Linked DNA regions of Homo sapiens. The protein of the gene in region 2 interacts with the protein of the main gene of each other region in a pairwise test. Each region holds a gene or a part of one and is shown on either strand. Other genes may lie near its edges.

Region 1 (7,024 bases), on a different chromosome or scaffold from region 2:
GCAGCAGCCCCAGCCCCCACCAGGCGGGGACAGGCCACCAGCTCCATGCCAGCAAACAAGGAGTCGCGGCTCCACGCACAGCTGCTGGGGCCTCTCTTTGGGCTGTCCGTGCCCCCTGGGATCCGTTCAGGTCTCCACCGCCTGCTTTCTGCCAGTCTGGCCTCGGCCTCGCTGGGGTCTCCGGGGGCTGGAATGGGGGAGGCATCTGGGGGTGGGGTGGGCACAGGGCTGGACGGCATCCCAGATGAGGGAGCAGGGCTCCGGGACGAGACCGGGGTTGAACTCAGAGGCTGCAGGAAGACCTGGCTCCCAGGGAGAGGCACAGCGTCGGTCAGCAGGTCAGATGGGCCTGGGAGGGCGGCTGTGGGGCCAGGCTCAGCTGAGGTGCCCCGGGCAGGGGACAGCTGCCCACAGGAGGCCTCAAAGTGCCTCAGGATCTGAAAGAGGAAGGAGGAACCAGGGAGGTTCCTATGCAACCCTGGGAAATGTGGGGACCAGGGCCCGCTTCTCCCTAGGACCTCCTCAGTCCCTCCACCCAGAGGGCAGGGCCACCTCTGGGCAGGACACCGGCTGCTGGGAGGGGCTGGGGCAGTGCACCCAGTTGTCATCCCACCGAGAGCAGCTGCTGGGCTGGTGCTGGCGACACGGGGCAGGTGTCACATACACACCTCGAATCTTGCTCCTTTACTCACTACTAGACAAATGGACACCCTCCCCGTCATAACCCGCCAGGCACTGCCGGAGGGAGTGAACACGTGGCCTGGCACATCTGGGCATTTCCAACTGTTGGACGCAGGGTTCTTCCAGCATGCCCGTTTTAGAAACCCCACTATGAGGTTCGCCTGCGGTGGTGCGAACCCCAGGCTCACTCGTCGCTCTGACTGAAAGGTGAGCTAGCAGATGGCCAATGACAGTTAAGGATGACTTGGGGATGGGTGACTGAGGACCTGTGTTTCCAGCAGCCAGGGAGAAAACAGGAAGAAAGAAGCTGGGAATGCCCACAGGCAGAGGGAAGGTGCCAGGGCCTGGCGGCCGGGAGAGGCCTCCCCGTGTGATTCCAGTGGCCGCCAGGCAGTTCAGAGTGTTCAAGTGCACAGAGATGAATGGAACCATTTCTGCCCTCCGGAGCTTGGGAGTTGAGCATGAGCTGTGTCATGGGTGGCAAACTGCATGTGCAGTCAGGGAGGGCTTCCTGGAAGAGGTAAGTGTGAGGCCAAGACACAAGGGCAGGAACATTAAGGCAGCGGAGTCTGGGGGCTTCCAGGAATAGGTAGAGGCCAGTGTACTGTGAGTGCTGCAGAGTTTGGGTGGAAGGCGGGAAGGCAATGGGGAGGTGAGGACCCTGACTTGCTGCTGCTCCCTCTGCCAGCGGGACAGGGACTTGAGAGGGGGTCCGGGAAGGGCTGACCAGGCGCCGGGCAGGGACGGGGTGGCCGTGGACTGCAGCGTATCTCCCACTGTACCCTTGGACCCCGGTGTGCGTGTGGCCTCCGCAGCTGCCCACCTTGGTGGCCTTGTTGGTCACAGGTCCCGGGCTGCCCATGCTGAGCTCCTGCAGCCACGGCCGGGTGCGGAGGAGGATGTGCTCCTGGGGGAGGAGGTCGCTGCTCCCCAGGGAGGCGATGGCACACAGCGCCCTCTGCGGGTGAAGGGAGGGGACATCAGCACCCATGGGGCAGCAGGTCCACGCCAGGGAGGCCTATTTGGCCATCTCTCTCCCTCTTCTTCCTCCTCATCAATGACTGGAGTGCCAGGAGGCCCCAGAGACAGCTCCACCACAGCCCTGTCCTCACCGCCTTACACCCCGGATCCCAGACACCACAGCCCTGTCCTCACCACCTTACACCCCCGCTCCCAGACACCAGAGCCCTGTCTTCACCGCCTTACACCCCAGCTCCCGGACACCAGAGCCATGTCCTCCCCGGCTCCTGGACAGACCCCAGCGAGAAGCACGTGACCTGCTGCCCCGATTGCCTTACCTTCATTCCTCCGCACGCCCCCCGACACACGCACACACGTGTCCACACTTTCATGTGCATGCACACACACACAGGCACATACATACACAACCACACACATGCAGTCATGTACACACACACACAGATGTGTGCATACCACACACGTGCACAAGTGTGTACACACCGCACACATGCACGAGTGTGTACACACACAGGCATACATACACAGGCATACACACCCACACGCACACACACAGGCATGTGCGCACGCACAGCCACACAGAGGAATGTTCACACACAGGTGTGCACACAGGCACACGTGCACACACACGCACACGCACACACACGCACACAGGCACATGCACACAGTCACGCCCTCCCGCCCGCGTGTGCAGCTCACCAGCTGCGTGCATTCACTGGTCCCACGCAGGTGGCAGGTCAGCAGCTGCAGCACGGCCTCACAGTTGAGCAGTCCACACCTGCACAGAGGGGACACCTGGGTGGCGGGTGCGGCCCGTTCCCTCCTCCCTCGCCCACGGTTGGGGCTGAGGCAGAGCAGGGCGGGTCCGGGCGCACTCACGCTTTGATGAAGTGCTGTGCCTCCTCGCGGCTCAGGAAGGCGCGTGGTCCCCGAGTCACAGTCCTCACCAAGCTCAACTCCTGCTGACAGTCACTCAGGGCCACCACCTCGACCCTGCCAGGGGGAATGGCCGGGTCAAGGGTGAGTGGAGGCCATGCCCCCACTCCTGTCTCGCATGGGGGAGAACCTGGAGAGCAGGAGCCGCGCTGGGAGGGGGACAGTGTGGTGCCTCCGAGACCTCTCCCACATATCTGGCAGCTCCCGCTCACCTTTCTGCCAGGTCACCCGGCTCCCGGCTGGCCCCTGAATGGCTGTCGCTGCCGGAATGACTGCCCGAGTCCGAGACCCTGCTCAGGTCGCTGTTCTGGGAGGAATTCTGAGAGCTGGGGCCGCTGTCCAGCTCATCCCAGCCCCCTCCGGCCTGCCCAGGCTGATGCCTCACAGCTGGAGGAAACAGGACAGCCGGTGAGATCCCTGGGGCTTCAGGCCAGCCCCATGCCCACCTCCCGGGGCCCTGGACCAGGAGGCCTCGGGGGCTGAGTCCTGAGCTGAGGATGGGTGGCCACCTTGGCTCCAGCTTCAGCAAACACCAGCCCCATGGGCATGTGCTTCCGCCGCGGGTCCCACCCCTCCTGCTGTGTGGGAGGCCCTGGGATTTGCCTCCGTGGCCGCAAAGCCCCAGCGGTGACAGGAAGGAGTGACCCAGACCCCAAGGGGAGGAGCCCTCGCCTCGATACCTCGGGGACCTGGAATGGCCCCGGGGAGTAGGTTCCCCAGGGTTGGGGGACCGTGGCTGGCTGAAGGCATCATGGCAGGCTGGTAGGTGTCACCCCGCGGCAGGAGCCTCCGGGTACTGGGACTCTCGGGCCCGGGGCGCATGGCGCTGGCCACCACCTCTGCGGCCTTCTGGATGGTGGAGAGGAAGGCTTCGCCTGCCGAGCCTGTACCCGAGGAGAGGGAGATGGGACGGCCGCCCAGTGCGGCCCCCACCCGCGTTCTCTGGGAGCAGGGTGCCCGCATCGGCTCCCTGCTCAAGCTTGGAGAGGTCGGGGTACATGCTGCAGGTAGGGAGGCCTCCTGGTGGGCCCCAGGCCCTCTGGAAGCTCCCAGTGGACTCCGCTTTGGCATTCCCACTCCCAGTGGGCCTGGACACCAAAGCTCACTGCAGAGTTATGCCTCCGTCCCTCTGTCCTCTGGGGGTGAAGGTGTCCTAAGGGGCTTGGGCTTGGCCTTGGCTCAGGGAGGGTGTGTCCAGGGCTCGGGGAGGGGCCGGCCTTTCCTGTGTGAGTTCCCTGTAGAAGCTGCCCCGACACCAAAGTGTCGGCAGGAGCCCCAGGCTGTGCGCAGGACGGCGTGACACAGCCTAACGGTGAGCAGCTACACACCGCCCAGGGCCCGGCAGCAGGGCACAGCTGGGCTGGGGGCTGGGTCCCAGCCGCAGGCAGTGGTGCCACCTGTGGCTCTCCTGGCGCTGGTGAGCAGTTGTCCACTGGTACTGCCCCACCTCATAACAGCTCCACACGGGACTGCCTGAGTCACCTGCACCACAGCCAGGGGCACAGCCCTCGGCCCCTCTCAGAGTGGGACTCACCCCTGCCACGGGGCCCAGCCCTGACTTCTTGCTCGGCCTGGTTTCTCTCATCTGTCCATAAAGCAGCCCTGGCCACACCTGCCCCACCCCCACGTCAGCAGCCAGAGAGAGACAGTGGGGACAGCCCCAGGAAGGGTTGAGGCCATGTAGGGGAGGGGACGGGGGACAGCAGCTACTAGATGGGGCGGCATGGTCCGGCCCCCACCACCTCCTCATCCCCACACCCTGAGATGCCAGAGCCCATGCAGGCCCTCCCCACTCACCCGTGCGGCCGTGTTCCTTGCTGTAGCCGAAACCCTGGAGGGTGCTGTGCGGCCTGGCCTGGGAGCCCATGCCTGCAGAGGGTCCTCCGTTAGCAGCAAGCCGGCCCCCACCCTCGGCCCTGCCCACGGATGGCACAGACACCCAGGACACTCAAGGAGGCAGAAACCAGGTGCCAGAGCTGGACACGGTCCCCTCAGTCACCTACCTGTGGCAGGCGGGGTCCCCAGAGGCTGGGAGGGAGCCAGCGGCAACACGGTGTCCGAGAACAGGGTGCTCCCCAAGTCCTACAGGGGGAGGCGAAGGCCCTCAGTGTCCTCACACCAGGGCCTGCTGTACTCACCCTGCCACCCATATCAGCTCCGTTCTGTCCCCCGGACACTTCTCCTGAGCCACTCAGCTGGACACAGGCTCTGTGTCCACCAGCAAGGAGCAGAGGCAGGGGTCCCGGATGGGAGAACTGCAAACCCCCCAGCTGACATCCTGGCCCCAATCCCACCCCTCTACAGGAGGAGGGGCACCCCGCAGAGCGACACTGCTCCTGGGCTCACCTGCGCGGCCGCGCGAACCTTCTGGTACAAGCTGTTCCCGTGCAGAGGATCTGGGGGCCCTGCAAAAGCTGCAGAACAGAAAAGGCAAGTCGGGGGCAGGGCTGAGCCTGGCACCGCTGCTCCCTGTGGAGCACGGTGCCCTGGGCCCACTCCAGGGTGGCAAGTTCCTGCCACCAAGGCCCTTCTGTCACAGCCAATGGGATGCCCTCCTCCAGGACCCTGCAGAGGCCACACCTGAGCAGACCCTCAGCTCCCCCTCACCCATGCCCCACAGAGGCGAGACTCTCTCCACAGCAACCACCTCGTCTCCCCCAGGGTCGGCAACCCCTGGTGCCTGAGCGGGTGTGGCCTCCCCGAAGCCCACTCTCCCTGCCCCAGGTGCACCAGGGACCCCTCAGAGGCTTCCGGGGCCTGGAGGGAGAAACCAGCGTTCTTATCACAGCCTGAAAGCTCCACCTAGCCCCACCCAACCCCAGTCTCAGCCGCCTCGAGCTCCCCTGCTCTGAGAGTTCCTGTCATGATGAACTGGGGCTTCTTTCCTTAAATCTTCCGGCCCCAGGGCCCCCCAAGCCTACACCTGGGGCCGCGGCATCCTTTCAGGGCTCAGGCTGAGAGCTGTGCCTCTGAGAACCCCTCGAGAGCCTCTGTCACAGGCGAATCCACTCACGCCCCTCGGCCGTCTACCTCCACCCTGGCAGGCTGGTCCCGTGATTCGGAGACGATGCTCCTGGCTGTCCCTGGGCCCAGGGCTGGCGGCCACAAGCTGAGTCAATGGCTGGATGAACTGACACCCTGAGGCTGCCATCTTCCCTGCAGGAGCCCAGGGCACCCACCTGCCACCCCACGCTGCCCCTGCTCTGTGACAGAGCAGGAGCATCACCATCTTGGACAAGCCCCTCATTCTAAAGTTCACCTTAACCAAAAACTGCCTAAATCCATAGGGCATCAGCCTAATGGCTAAGGTCAGCACGACCATGAACCACAAATAACATCTCCAACCAGAAACATTCCAAACTCCTCCCCAACCAGAGACATGCTAGCCCCAAGATAACCCTTCTCCAGCCGGGAAGATGCCAGCTTCGAGAAAACCCACCTCCAGGCTGAAAAGATGCCTGCCCCAAGATAACCTTCCCTCCTTCCAACCCTGCCATAAACTTCTCCACACACATAAACATTCCGAGCTTCTGATAAGCCCTCTCATCCTAAAACCAACATTCAGTCTGTAAGATAAAGTGCTCCTGACCGCAATCGGCTGGGGGTGCCTCTCAGGTTTTAACTAAAGAAAATCTGTCTGTAACTGCCAGCTGCGTTTTCTTTCCTCTTTCTGACGCTCTGCGCGCGTGGGGCAGGCCATCCTCACTGCACACCCACCACCTGGAGCAGGGCGCCCCGTCTCTCACGTGTGGCATCTGGCACCCACTTTCCTCACAGGGCCTGTCCTGACACCTCCCACAGCCTGTGTGTCACCCAGGGCCAGTGTCCAGGCACGGCAGGCAACAGCCATCATCCATAGCTGCCTCTGCACAGGAGAGACTCTGGTGCCGACAAGAACCCAGGGTCTGAAGAAGAGCCTTTCCCATCCTCAGGTCCTGCTGTGCCCCATCCCCCTACCTGCTGCAGCCCCCACCCCAGGGCGTGTCCCCGAGACCACTGAGGCCACGACGTACATGCACCAACCACAGCCACGGGAGTGGCCTGGAGCCCGGGGCCCTCTGGCCCGCTGAATGGTGAGGATAAATGGCTGGTGCTGCCTTGGCCCCAAAGCTGTGAGGAGCTCTGTGAGGATGGCGAGAGCACCCCCGCACTGCCGTCCCCTCAGGGGCATCTACTGCCTAAGTCATGTGTCACAACTGTCTATGGCGGCCCAGGGCACTGGCCCCTGCGGAACACCTAGAGCTGCATGCCCACTTGCCATAAAGTGGGACAACACTGGTTTCGACACCGGTTTTGGGGTGAGCCCAGTGGATGGTACACCCTGAGGTCTCCACAAGCAAGCAGTGGCACGAGACAGACTCAGTCTCCCTCCCCAGAATTCCCCACTCAGGGGCTGGGGTGGGGTCCAGACATGGTGCGCCCAGTGACC
Region 2 (7,932 bases):
GGCCAAGACAGTGTATTATTCTTTGTGACTCACAGTGCTGAAACAGGAGAGTAAGAAAGCATCCTTGGTCCTGTTCTTTCTTTCTTCCCAGTTTGAAAGCCCAGAAAGCTGATCTGTGGCATAAATGATGGATGAGGTCAGACTTTAGTTTGCAGGAAGAAAGAGGGGGGCAGACAGCCGGGTTATACCAACAATCTGCTAGCCATCCTGACGTCATCTGTGTTGTCCTTTTTTTCCCCTTATTCTCCCCAGGGGAAAAAAATATGAAGATATTTTCTGGTGATGGAGCAGGGTGGAGGAAGAGTTGGGAATGCAGACATTTGCACTACTGGCCTAGTCGGAGTAGCCTTAAAATTTTTGCTTCTGGAGGACGGTCGTCATGGCAACCCCTGGACTCATGGATCAGGCCCCCTTTCTGCCTTTGTCTGGAGTACAAAGTCCTTGTTCCGCTTTCCACGGGCTGCTGAAAAAACACACCCAGCCAGATAGACACAGACACAGATAGACAGGCTCTCACGTATACTTAAAAACATTTAAAATCTTATATCAAGACCCAGGTTTCTTCCTACAGCTTATAATGATTCAGTTAATTGCAACCTTACCTGTCTGCTCCTCATGTTTCTCTCCACCTGTAAGAACAGGAGATTCTCTGATGCTAGCAGGGGACAGCCTTCCAGAGAGACCGCAGCACCACAGGGGCCTTTATGTGCATGTTTGTCCATCCTTGAAACACAGCAATCACCATAGCTATGGTTCCTAATTAGAGTGAGGGGACTTCTCCTGGAAGGAGCAGATGGGGAGCACGGCCCCGAGTGGGTTGAGAGGACTGAGGGTAGGGTTGTGGCAGAGAGTGTTTTGTGGCTTCCCAGCTGTTGTTGTCAAACCTGCTGCTGACAGGAGCCAGCCTGCCCTTTCCTTGGGGACCCAGACCCCGCACACCCAGATAGGAAAGAAACCAAGGCCTCCTGAGTCAAAGTGCCCACCATGGCAATCCAAAACTCCAGGAGGGAAAATGAAGGCTTTCTGGATTGACTTACAAGGGCAAACTCATCAAGGGCACCTGCTGGGAGCTCGACTTAGGTTTCTTCTCTGCACTTGGCTTCAGGCGAGAGCCGTGAGGAAGCTCTGAAGAGCCCTCATCCCTCAGTCTCAGTTTCTCCCAGTCCCTGTTCTAGGCCACAGATTGCAGAGAACACCTCAGGGTACAAACCACAGGAAGGTGATCTAGAAGGGCCAGGTGAGGAAATAAGTGCAGAGAGGTTAATTGACTCATCCAAAGATGCACAGCTAGTCGATAGCAGAGCCCAGACTGAATGCCAGGACTCCTGGAGGCTAAGTAGATCATGAGGAACACAGCAATTGCTCAAGGAAAAGGAAAATGCTAGAATGCACAGGGGACCAATTGAGACACTGAAAACCAGGCACCAAGACCCATTGGAATCTAATGAGATTAATTTTAGAGTAATAATATCATACTGACCATACTTTACTATGAATATACACTGTGCCAGGCACTTTACTGCATACTGCACATACATTATTTCACTGTGACAAGGATGGTTATCCCCACTTAACAGATGGAGAAACTGAGGCTGGAGGAGTATAAATAACTTACCCAAGACCACATGAATACTGAGGGGAAATGCCAAGATTATCCCCAGCCCTTCTGCCCCCAAAGTTCAGGCCTTGACTTGTTATGATACTGACTTTCATCAAAAGGAGGGCCGTGATTCATGCCTGTAATCCCAGCACTTTGGGAGGCCAAGGTGGGTGAATCTCTTGGGCCCAGCAGTTCAAGACCAGCCTGGGCAACATAGCAAAACCCTGTCTCTACAAAAAACACAAAAAATAGATGGATGTGGTGGCTCATGCCTTTAGTCTCAGCTTCTCAGGAGGCTGAGGTGGGAGGATCACTCGAGCCTCGGAGTTGGAGGCTACAGTGAGCCATAATCATGCCACTGCACTCCAGCCTGGGCCACAGAGTGAGACCCTGTCTCAGAAGAAACAAAAAAAGGAGAAACAATGAGCTGAATGTCCTCATTGATGTCATTTCTTTTAGGTTGCCATATGTTCAGGCCCTAGACTAAGACATCTTCTAGATGAAAGTTAAGACAAAAAGTATAAACCTCCCTGAGAGAAGTCAACTCATGAATGGGCTGGTTGGGCTACATGTGGGTGGTAGAGATGCTTTTTGGGGTCAAGCTTGGGCTTATATGTGTGTGTTTGCCATGTTGAACACTAAGACTCTGTGTCTTGACATTTGACATCTGACCTAGAACCAGGATCCTCCTGGTAGGCCAGGCCAACAAAACAGGGCCTATTTTTTCTAAACATTAGAAACCAAAAGATTTAGTAAAGTTGGTCAGACATTGATGCTGCACACCAAGGTCTATCTGAACAATTGACAGAGCTGGATTCCAGAAAGTTTAATTAGTAAGGGGATGTAGGGGAAAATCCAACATCCTTCCCAGGGAACGGTGCTGTGTTAATTCACTCCTAGGATCCCCTACCTATTACCCTCAGAATAAATCCTTGGCTTGCTTGCTGCCTGGAAGAGAAATCATGCAGGTGTTTCAGAGCATTAAGGAAGTTATTTCTTCCTCATGTTCACTCCGAGGTCAAGGACAAGAATGCTAGCTTTGGCGTTGGGAGGACCTCAGTTCAGTTCCCAGCCTGAACTTAAGTCTTGCACTGCAGTATAAAACAAGTGTTTTACTTTTCACTTCATCACATTATTGGATTTGATTATGTGGATAATCAGGGCTGCTCCAGAGCATATTTGCAGGGCAGTCTACGCAGTAAGCCATACATGGCAGCTCTGCAAAACCGGCACAGCAGACAGTGGTGTGAAGTCCACCCAGCAAAGCTCCCTCTCTTTCCCCATTCCCCATTCTGTTCCAGCTCAATGCAGGAAGTGTATGAAATTCACCCCCTATAAGCCAGGCCCTGTGCTGGGTGCTAGGAGTAGAGCTACAATGAAGTCAAGATTCCTGCTGCCCAGAGACTTCCACTCTAATAAGAGAGACACAGGGAAGTAAACATAATCTCAGTGAGGTATGAGGCATGCCATTAGAGGCATGTAGAAGAATGGAAACTGCACAGAGGAGTGTGAAGTTAAGTGTCTTAGAGAGGGGTAAAAAGACTTGCAGAGAAGTGATACATAAACCAAGTTTTGGAAGACGAACAGAAACAGTGAAAATGATAGAGTGAGCAGAGGGGAAGAGCTCATAGAAAGGGATAGAGTACGAATCAGAGGATCCCTGGGCTCTTTCAGGAATGTGGCTACTCACTTATTATGTCACCAGCACAGCTCACCAACTCGGACATATGGAGGAACAGCTCCTCTCACCTGCTCCCTGCTTGTGCCTCCATGGGTCTCTGACCCCCTTAGCTTAGGCCTCCTGCTCCTAATTCTGGCCTCCAGGCCCATGGCCCCAGTAACATGTTTTGGATCCATTTCCCTGGCCTTGACCTTCTGGACTCTTTTGGGCATAATCCACTCTACGATCGGCAACTGTGAATGAGAAACCCTCTTCCTTCCACCCTGCCCTGTGGTGTCCCAAAGGCCAGGCCAGCCCAGCTTCCCCAACAGTGACCAGATGCATACAAGGATCTGTAAGTGTCTCATGGAGCTAGATTACCACACATGAGTGGCAGTAGACATGGTTCCAGAAGCAGACAGGACACCAGTCCGATTCTGGCTAAGGAGTCCTGCAGACATGGGGAGCCACTGAAGGGCCTGATGCTGGGGACTGGCAAATTCTGAGTTGCCTTCCCAGGGGCTGCTCCAGAGAAGACAGGGTGGATGTATTGGAGAGAGAAGTACTAGGAGCAAAGAAAAAAAAATGCATGGAAGACCATTGCACTAGTTGAGCAAGACGTTGAGTAGGAGACAAAGTCAGGCTTCCCTGCCTTTTGTGGCTAAGACAATCATGGACCTCCCTGAAGGCAGGGGCAGAACAGACCTGAGGTCCCCCTCACTCTCTCTCGTGATTCTGATTGTTATTGAAAGCTGCCTCCTACCACATCACTATCATCATTCCTCCCCCGATTCTCTACCTCCTGCTTCTTTTCCTCCTCCTCCTATTCCTCCTCCTCTTCTTCCTCCTCTCGTCTCTCTCCCTCCCTCTGTCCCTGCTTCTTCTTCCTCCTCATCCTCCTTCATCTTCTTTCTCTCTCTCCCTAAAGCAATATGCCTTGCCTCCTGCCTCTAGCTCAAGCTGCCAGACAAGACAAAATGGAAAAGTAAGACAGAAAAGGAAGTCTGAACTATAAAAAGCCAGCTGAAGAGCAATCAGCACGTGTCTGGGAGAGGCAGACGCGACAGGAGGAGCTCGGCCTTACCACTGTCAATCAGAGGTTCCTGAGTAAGGAGACCTGACAAAGGTTTGGGCCTTCAGGAGTCTGGAAACCCTGGGATGCTCAACAACAACAACAACAAAAAACAACAACTTTTGTCATGGATTTCATCACCTAGGATCCTGGAGGAGGAAATCACAGCTCTCCCCAGCGATCCCGCCAGGCAGATGGTGGGAAATAGAGATCCATTGAATAGCACCCACAGGCTCATGTTCCGGCTTCCCTTGTGACCACCTGCCACCTCCACTGTGGCCCAGAACCATCTTCAGTGACTCTCCACAGGTCACAGCAACCTGTTTACAGACGGCTAGAATTCCCAAGCACTTTTAGGACAGGGGACTCGGGATGGTTCCAAGCAGACAGCAAAGTCTTCTCTAAGAGAAGCCGCTCCTCCCGATCTATTTTTGCCGATGTAAACACTTGCCAAGGAAACGAGGCATGTGGGCATGCGCCGGCCCTGCAGGCCCTCGGGTTGCTGCAAAAGGCAACTGGAAAGTCACATGTCATAACAGTGGAAAGTACATATGCAACTATTCTTAGCCCTGGAATGTATACACTGTCTCCCTGCCCAGCAGTCCTTGCACAAAGCTCTAGAAAACTATGAAAGTGCCTTCAGCATAAACAAATCCAGAAATCTCCCAGGACAAATCATTTGCCAACTGAAAGAAAGGCCTGGGGTTTATGGTTTCCCTTGGAGCTAGAGGTAGAAACTCTCCGGGGGGATAAGTCAGACCAGGCACCAGTGGATGTCACCGCAGCAAAACAAGGTAAGTGTCCCTCATACTTATTTCTTCTGCAAGTAGAAAACCAGGTGTCATCCAATAAACCAGGGGATTGTTTGGTCTTTCCTTTTATTTATTCTATCTTTAAAACAAGACTCAATGAAGTCATATTTAAATATATGCATCAAAGGTCCATTTTCTTCCCTCATTTCTGTCCAGTGACCAGAGGGCCACACCTCCAGAATATCATCCTTGGGGAATGATTGACACCCAGAAAGAGAGGTTTAGACATCTGTTACTCAATAACAGATATGCCATCGATCTGGAAAAAGGCTCATGAACTTCTGCTGGTCAAATCCATGGACTGTTATCTTGCTTCAGACTAACATTTCAGCTTCTGATAACAGAGTAACTTCCAACAACTTTAGTTTGTTTGTTTGGTTGTTTCTCTCAGATTAGCTGAAGATACTATTTGCCTATTACTTTTGAAAATAACCATAACCCAAAAGGGCTCAGGTCTGAGATGTATGTGGCCTTCCTTTCCAATCTTCCCTACACAATATCCATGGTGACATCCGCAAACATCATGGGGAATGGAATAGGAGCACTGGTCTTGGAGTCCCCACAGCTGAACCCTCCAGCACATGCAGCTGAGAAAGGTTTGACTCTTGCTGACTCTGGGGGCTTCCTTCCCTCTTTGTAGGATGGACGAGGAGTCACTAGATGGGCTGCTCTTCAAAGACCACGACTTCTCTTCTGACTTGTTGAGGCAGCTCAACAGCTTAAGGCAAAGCAGGATCCTGACTGATGTGAGCATCTGTGCCGGTGCCCGGGAGATCCCCTGCCACCGCAACGTGCTGGCCTCCAGCAGCCCCTACTTCAGGGCTATGTTCTGCAGCAGCTTCCGGGAGAAGAGTGAAGCCAAAGTGCAGCTGAAAGGCATTGACCCCCCAACCCTGGACCAGATCGTCTCCTACGTGTATACGGGGGAGGCACATATTGCCACTGACAATGTCCTCCCCGTGATGGAGGCCGCCTCCATGCTACAGTTCCCCAAGCTGTTTGAGGCCTGCTCCTCGTACTTGCAGAGCCAGTTGGCCCCCAGCAACTGCCTGGGTATGATCAGACTCTCAGAAATCTTAAGCTGCGAGACCCTCAAGAAGAAAGCCAGGGAGGTGGCACTGACGTCCTTCCCAGAGGTGGCCGCATCGGCCGACCTGAAGGAGCTCTGTGCCTTGGAGTTGAGGGACTATCTCGGAGATGATGGGCTCTGTGGGGAGGAGGAAAAGGTGTTTGAGGCCCTCATGGTTTGGATCAAGCATGACCTCCAGGCCCGGAAGCGATACATGCAGGAACTGTTCAAGCAGGTCAGGCTGCAGTACATCCACCCAGCCTTCTTTCACCACTTCATCGCCAACGATGCCCTCCTGCAGTCCTCGCCTGCATGCCAGATCATCTTGGAGACCGCCAAGAGACAGATGTTCTCTTTGTGTGGCACCACCGTCCCAGACTGCAAACTCCTGTTGCATGTCCCTCCAAGAAACTCTTACCAAGATTTCCTCATCCTCTTGGGCGGAAGGAAGGACAGCCAGCAGACCACCAGGGACGTCCTACTGTACAGCAAACAGACCGGCCAATGGCAGAGCCTTGCCAAACTCCCGACACGGCTGTACAAGGCCTCTGCCATCACCTTGCACCGCAGCATCTATGTGCTGGGGGGCATGGCTGTCAGCTCAGGGAGGAGTCTGGTCAGTCACAATGTCTACATCTTCTCCCTGAAACTCAATCAGTGGAGGCTGGGGGAGCCCATGCTGGTGGCCCGCTACTCCCACAGAAGCACTGCCCATAAGAACTTCATCTTCTCCATCGGGGGGATTGGAGAAGGGCAGGAGCTCATGGGCTCCATGGAAAGGTATGACAGCATCTGCAATGTCTGGGAGAGTATGGCCAGCATGCCCGTGGGGGTGCTCCACCCCGCAGTCGCTGTGAAAGACCAAAGACTCTATCTCTTTGGAGGAGAGGACATCATGCAGAACCCTGTGCGCCTTATCCAGGTAAATGGCCGGTTCTTCCCATCACGTAACTGCATGAGTATGTGTGCTTGGACACACCCACACCTGCTTGCACACACATGCACATGTATACATACACACCAAAAAACACATATATGCACATAAATATATATATGCACACATATACACAAACACACATATGCATACATGCGTGCACACATATATGCAGAAATGTATATTCATGCATACATGCATACACATATGCACACATATATGCAGATGCCAACATGCATACGTGTGCACATGCATACACATATACAATTCATGCATGCATACACACATTTACATATATCTACACATGCATGCACACATTTATACATATGCACGAACACAAATACGTACATGCATACATGCACACACATGTGCACCCATGTACACACATACCAACACTTGTTATTTGCAAGGAAGGAAGAGAGGAAGGGAGGGAGGGAAGAAGGATTTTCAGCAAGATATTTTTCAATTTATGAATTTTTTTGTGCAAAAATAATACATAACAAAGGATATCAAATACCATCCCTATGCACAGAGTTTATCTTCATTTGATGAGAAAAATATATATCTAAAAATTCAAGTTATTATACAGCATATTGAAAGTCAGATAGTGAAGTCCCATAGGAATTTGGCAGGTGCTTCTAACTCAAGTCAGTAAGGCCTTAAAAGAAGATTCCCAAGCCTTGGTCCACACCTCTGTGACCAAATCCCCTGGAACCTGACCTCACATCACTGAATCAAAATATCTTTGTGTGAGATCCTAAAATGTATGGTTTACAAAAGTCCCC
Region 3 (6,611 bases), on a different chromosome or scaffold from region 2:
GGTTGGAGCTGATACATGATTTTGTCATTCTTCCATGCCTTGCTTCAAATGACCATAGAGGATCCTCTAACCAGGCATTCTACCGTTCTTCCTTTGCTATGTCCAGAAGGAGAAGAGGGAGGGCTCTCATTCTTTATGGCTTAGAGGTAGACCTCAGACCATGGGCTGAAAGTTGTGAAAAGGCAAATTCAAGTTCAATAATTAGGAAAAACATTTTAATGTTGGCTCCTTAAAATAGACTACATGGTGAGGTAATGAATTCCGTGGCAATCAGCGACTTGCCCAAGCATTCAAAGCTAGTTAGGCCAGCATTAGAATGCACACCTACGGGGTCCCGACTGCAAAATACAGTGTTCTTTTTACCACCTAGAAGCTGGGTGTTGCTCCTACAAAACACCACAGAATTCTGAGCCTAGGACTAGACCTGAGCAGCTGGAAATATACAGACTTGCTGAGTGCCTTGCTTATTACTGTCATCATAACAAATAGTTGTCATTGAACAAACAGCAAGCCATGTCAGGTATTTCCTTTTATTAGCTCTTACAAGATTCCTGTTGGAAAGCTGAGAGGTCATGGAAACATTTGTCTACAACCTCCTTGAAGAATGTGGTGAGAAAAATATACATACATATATGTGTGTGTATATGTCTACTTTGTGATGAGTCTGAGGTTGTTTCCTGCTCTGAAGGGGCTCAGAAGTGCTTCTGGAGGGCAGACTGGATATTCTTCAGCAGGCCCCACTTAGCTCGGTTCTTCCCATGTCCATCTGGTGTTACCACCTGCAATCAGAAGCGAAGAGTCATGACACCCAATAGACAACAGCTCCCAGTAGCCTGGGCCCTTCTGCATGTCAGACACTACACACATCATTTCATTAACTCCTCACGACCACCACAGTGGCTGTTGGTGCCACTTTATAGATGAAGAAGCTGAGGCTCAGAAGGACCAGGAAGGTTTCCCAAAGCCCCACAGCTATAGTGTCCTGGGATTGTGATTCCATAGGCCAGATCCTACTTCCCTTTAGGGTAGCTCATGTGACTAAGTGCTGATGACAGTGATGGGGCTGGACCGCAGGTGAGCTTCACCATAGAGGATCCTCTGTATCCTTCCTCAGCCATTAGAACTTGGTTCTGTCACAGCTTTTATCAGTTGTTAAGTTTCAGCTAATGCATTTGACTTTCTTACCAGACCATGAGCACCTTGATTGGGGTGTGGGGGAAATGATAGTCTTTCATCTCTGTGGTCCCAACACTAGTTATGGAAAAGAGAAGATTCTTAGAGAAGTATATGAACAGTGAATAGAACTATAATATAATATAATTTGTAAATCTGCCAGTTGTTTTCCTTTGATGCTAGCAGAAACACTTCATACTATCTTTAATTACAGTGAATGGCCAGTGCTACCTGAAAAAGAAAGACTGTACTGGGCACGAGGGGTAAGAAGAACCCTCCTAGAAATCTCACCAAGTTAGCTTAGATGTTGCCCTCCATGCCTTACCTTGAAGATACTGGGTTTCTTCACTACTGTGGTCTGGCAGCATTCCCATTCCTTCCCCCCAAATAAATATTTATGGAGTGAGGTCGAGACCCAGGGATGAAAGACAGTCCACTGGATCAATGGGCTCTGCTGAGGTGAATGAGGACTTGAGATAGAATGGGGGTGGGGTTTGTATGGTGAAGAGGAATGTTTATACAGGGCACAAAGTCTCTATGTACAAAGCTTTTAACCTTCTATATTTGTATATAAAGGGAAAGGGCAAAAACAAAGAAGCCAGACCCTTATTAGCATTATGCTCTCTACTTTTACAAAATTTTTGGTTTTAGAGAAGACAGGGCTGCATGCAAGGCAAAGGTCATATTATATACATGATATTAGATTATCCATTGCTGAGTAGAAATGGAAATAATGCATAGAGATAACCCTGATAAAAGTAGTATAAATAATGTCCAAGATACACACAGAGTTATCAGAGGGCATGAGGAAGATGGAACGGTGTTACGAGGTGTTAGGAATTAACTCATAAATAGGAGATTGAGTTTTTGCTTTAAAATATAGTCAGAATCTTCAAAGATAAAGACTGTATGTGATATGTGAATGGAGCAGTGAGGATTGAGGTGTGTCTATGAAAAAAGGGAATCAGGTAGAAAGAAGGACAGAAGAAACAGAAAAACAAAACTTGGAATATTAAAGAAATTGAAATGATAGTTGACATCTCTTCCCTGCCCCAAATGCCCCAGGCTCATATTGCTTTCCAGATGAATTCTACCAAACTCTTAAGAGTTATTCTAGAAAATAGAAGAGCAAAAAGTTTCCCAGCTCTTTTTATGAAGGTTGTGAAATATTGATTCCAGAACCAGATAAAAACAATATAAGCAAAAAATTGAGCCCAATTCCCTTATAATTATAGATGCAATAAACCAAAATAAAATACGAGCTAACTGAAGTAAACTGTATTAAAAAGTAATACATCATGAACACACAGGATTTATTCCATGAATGGAAGTGGAATTTAGTATCAGAAAAATCAGTCAATGTAATTCACTTCATTAATAATGGCCTGAAGGAGAAAAATCATGTAATTACCTCAAATAATGCAAAAAATTTAATAAGTACCTATTTCTCAGAAACCTAGAAGTAATTTTCCTTAACTTAATAAGGATTATATACCATAAAAACTAAATAAAAAATAACTCAATGGAGAAACGTTAATATCAGGAATAAGACAAGGATATCTACTAACACTGCCACAATTTTATGTATGACTCAAGGTTCTGGCCAAAGCCATAAGGAAAGAAAAAAGAAATAGAATTGTGAGAATTGTAAGTAAACAGATAAAACCATCATTCTTTATAGGAGATAGGATCATATGCCTGGGAAAACAAGCAGAAATAGCAGATTGGGTCTCAGAATAGTAAGGAGAGTTTCTGACATTGCTGGAATCAAGATTACCCTACAAACAGAAATAGTCTTTATTCTAAACCAGTAATCTATTAGAAAATATAATAAAATAACTTTCATAATATCAACAGTCTGTAAACTATTTGGTTTATTTATTTATGGTATGCAACATGATGTTTTGACATATGTATACAAAGTAAAATAATTACTACAGGCAGGCAAATTAGCATACCCACCATCTCACAGTTATCTTTTTTTGTGTGTGTGAAAAGAACACCTAAAATCTTAACAAATTTTCTATCAATACAATATTATTAACTGTAGCCCTCATGCTGTACGTTAGATCTCTAAATGATCTAGTTTAACCAGGAATATGTGCACCTATGTAGGAAAACTTAAACACCCCAGTAAAGAACATAGACTATGGTTTGAGTAAATGTTCAAACATATTACAAAAATACCATTTGTTTCCAAATTAATTTAGAAACACAATGCCTTCTGAATAAATTCTATCTGAATGTTTTCTAAGAATTCAAGTTACTCCAAAATGTATATGAAGAAATAAATTTCTATGATTAGCTAAATAATTTCTGAAAAAGAAAGAAGGATAATGGGCATACTTACCGTAGCAGTTCATAAAGACATGGCAGAAAGCTGAGGTTCAAAAATAATAAAACAAGTATGGTATTGATATAAGAGCAGAAATATAGACCCATGGCATGTAATAGAGTCCTCAGAGACATACCCCTAAATATATGGAAACTGAATATAAAAGTGGCATTTCTGGCCAGGCGCGGTGGCTCATGCCTGTAATCCCAGCACTTTGGGAGGCTGAGGCCGGCAGATCACGAGGTCAGGAGATAGAGACCATACTGGCTAACACGGTGAAATCCCGTGTCTACTAAAAATACAAAAATTTAGCCGGGCGTGGTGGCGGGCGCCTGTAGTCCCAGCTACTAGGGAGGCTGAGGCAGGAGAATGGCGTGAACCCAGGAGGCGGAGCTTGCAGTGAGCCGAGATCGCGCCACTGCACTCCAGCCTGGGCGACAGAGCGAGACTCCGTCTCAAAACAAAACAAAAAATAAACAAACAAATAAACAAAAAAACCAAAAGTGGCATTTCCATTGTATAAATATGAATAATAGATATTTCTTGGTAGATGGTATTGGGAAAACTGGTTCACTACATGGTGAAAAAGAACATCCCTACCTAGGACTACATAGGCAGAGTACATACATACATTTGATACATACAAAGGCAGAGTCTGGATGGATTAAAGAGCTAAATTTGAAAGGTGAAACTGTAAATTTAATAAAAGAATATATAGAAGGTTATCTTTGTGATCTAATCCTAAGAAAAGACTTTTTAAATAAAACTTCAAAAGGTTAAGCTATAAAGAAAAAATAATTGATGATTTTGATTATATCAAAATTAAGTATTTCTGCTATTTTATGAAGTACACTATGAACAAAGCTGATAGGCAAATGTCAGAAGAGAAGATAATACCAATGTCTAAAACCATTACCTAGAATATATAAGGACATCCTGCAAATCACCTAGAAAAAGAAAAATGCAATAGAAAAATGGGCGAAGGATATCAACAGGTTCTTTACAGAAGAAGAAATCCTGAAAACTAACAAAAATATAAAATGAAATTTAAAATAATAAGGACATATCATTTTATGCCTATTGGGCTAGCAAAATAATAGAAAACTGGATCTTGCTAAATGTAGGTGGGGCTTAGGGTATAGTGGCTCTAATCTATTCCTTATGGAAGTGTACATGGATGTGGTCAAATTAAGTACCCACATGTCAATGGCCTAGAAATTTCACTCATATGTATCTAATATGGGGCGAATTGCACCTGACCCCAAATTTATATGTCAAAGCCCTAACCCCCAGTACTTAGAGTGTGATTATATTTGGAGATAGGGCCTTTGAAGAGGTGATTTAATTAAAATGAGGACCCTAATCCAACCTAACCGGTGTCTTTATAAGAAGAGGAAATTTAAACACAGAGAGGTATCACAATGCATGTGCACAAAGGAAGGACTATGTGAGGAGACAGTGAGAAGGTGACCATCTGTAAACCAAGGAGAGAGGTCTCAGGAGAAACCAACCCTGCCAACATTTTGATTGCAGACTTCCAGCCTCAAGAACTGTGCAAAAACTAATTTCTGTTTAAGCCACCCAGTCTGTGGCATTTTCTTATGGAAGCCTTAGCAAACTAATCAATAACCCAGAGAACGCTTACACACCTATGGTGTCCATAAGGTGACATATATAAGGCTGTTCACTGCAGTATTATTGGAGGTCACCTGGGTGTCCATCCTGCCTGAAATAGACAGGTAACATGTGGTGAACAAATGCACATTCTGAAAGATCAGGTGTTATCAGGAGTAAAAGACAAAATGCCCATAACAACATAGATGGATCATAAAAACACAGCATTTAAGAAAAAAAGGTAAGAAACAAAGTAAGATATGTAACACAATGCTAATTGTGTAAATTAATAACACATTGAAAACAACAATGCAAATCATGGAAGAACACATAAAAACAAAAAGATACACATAAAACATATTAGAATGGATGTCACAAAAGGGAATATATAAATAAGAATAGGGCTTTGTATAGATCAGTGCTAATGATGGACCATGACTGAGGTGTATAATTAATTCAGACCTCTGTACATGAGGTTAAAAAGAAATCAGGTCCAGCATGATCCGAAATTATACTTGTTCCAGGATTCAAGCCTATCTACAGGGCAAGCAAAGGAAGGACCAACAGGGTTCTGCTTACATGAAAGGTCACGAGCTCTTTAGAAAAGAATAAATCCTAAGGAGATAAAGAATGCAAACCATCTTGGTTTCATTTTAGGGCACGGAGTCACTGTGAGTGTGTGGGTGGCTGTGGGGTAGGCTTGGGGTAGTTATTTTGAGTGTGAAATAGTGGTGGTCATTCAGATTGAATGACCTCCAACCCTAACCTTTGAAAGTGTGTGGCTCCAACCCTAATCTTTGAAGGTGTGTGGCTCAGCCTGAGAGTCTGCAGCAGGAAGAGGAAAAATCAGGAAGGGAATTTCATGATGGCCAGGCAGTCCTGCTGTGTGGCTGGGGTTTCAGCAGGAGCACAGGCCGAATAGGAAGACAGCAGCACTGCAGAGACTCAGGGCAGCTGGCAGGACTACTTCCTCAGCCCCATCAGACACCGAGGATGACTCTCAGTGCAGACTGAGAAGGGCTTTGAGAGGATGGTTGGGGACAGGGGTTGCTGCATTTCCTGAAGAGCTAACAGGGAAAGACCCAGAAAATTACCAATTTGTAACTATTGTTGGGCTTGAATTTTTACCTCCAAGTCTGATGTAACCTAGGACATCCACTTTACAGATTGTGGTAGACAGAATAATGGACCCCAGAGATGTCCATGTCCCAATCCCAGAACCTTTGAATATGTTAGGTTACACACATAGCAAAGGGGAATTAAGGTTGCTAGTCAGCTGGTCTTTTTTTATTTTTTTGACATGGAGTCTCACTCTGTCACCCAGGCTGGAGTGCAGTGGCTTGATCTTGGCCCACTGCAACCTCTGCCTCCCAGACTTAAGCGAGTCTCGTGCCTCAGCCTCCCAAGTAGCTGGGATGACAAGCGCACACCACCACACCCAGCTGACTTTTTTTTAATTTTTAGTAGAGACAGGATTTTGCCATGTTGC

The links. Proteins that work in one complex are often made in the same cells at the same time.
Region 1: the proteins of KLHL38 (region 2) and TEPSIN interact in binary tests that used the Homo sapiens proteins (3 or more experiments, as listed by UniProt).
Region 3: the proteins of KLHL38 (region 2) and TRIM42 interact in binary tests that used the Homo sapiens proteins (3 or more experiments, as listed by UniProt).

What each region holds. Positions count from the first base shown.
Region 1 is NC_000017.11:81,229,040-81,236,063, forward strand, and holds part of TEPSIN (AP-4 complex accessory subunit tepsin), read right to left. Parts: intron 6,245-7,024; exon of another isoform or gene 5,010-6,244; coding exon 4,942-5,009; exon of another isoform or gene 4,900-4,941; intron 4,678-4,899; coding exon 4,599-4,677; intron 4,563-4,598; exon of another isoform or gene 4,465-4,562; coding exon 4,393-4,464; intron 3,480-4,392; coding exon 3,276-3,479; intron 3,171-3,275; exon of another isoform or gene 2,983-3,170; coding exon 2,808-2,982; intron 2,653-2,807; coding exon 2,539-2,652; intron 2,438-2,538; coding exon 2,359-2,437; intron 1,640-2,358; coding exon 1,505-1,639; intron 1,202-1,504; exon of another isoform or gene 963-1,201; intron 889-962; exon of another isoform or gene 699-888; intron 438-698; coding exon 1-437. UniProt on the Homo sapiens protein: Associates with the adapter-like complex 4 (AP-4) and may therefore play a role in vesicular trafficking of proteins at the trans-Golgi network.
Region 2 is NC_000008.11:123,650,780-123,658,711, reverse strand, and holds the start of KLHL38 (kelch-like protein 38), read left to right. Parts: upstream 1-4,910; 5' UTR 4,911-5,126; intron 5,127-5,300; exon of another isoform or gene 5,301-5,784; 5' UTR 5,785-5,785; coding exon 5,786-7,135; intron 7,136-7,932.
Region 3 is NC_000003.12:140,695,056-140,701,666, reverse strand, and holds the end of TRIM42 (tripartite motif-containing protein 42), read right to left. Parts: intron 1,252-6,611; coding exon of another isoform or gene 1,153-1,251; exon of another isoform or gene 925-1,152; intron 780-924; coding exon 693-779; 3' UTR 517-692; downstream 1-516.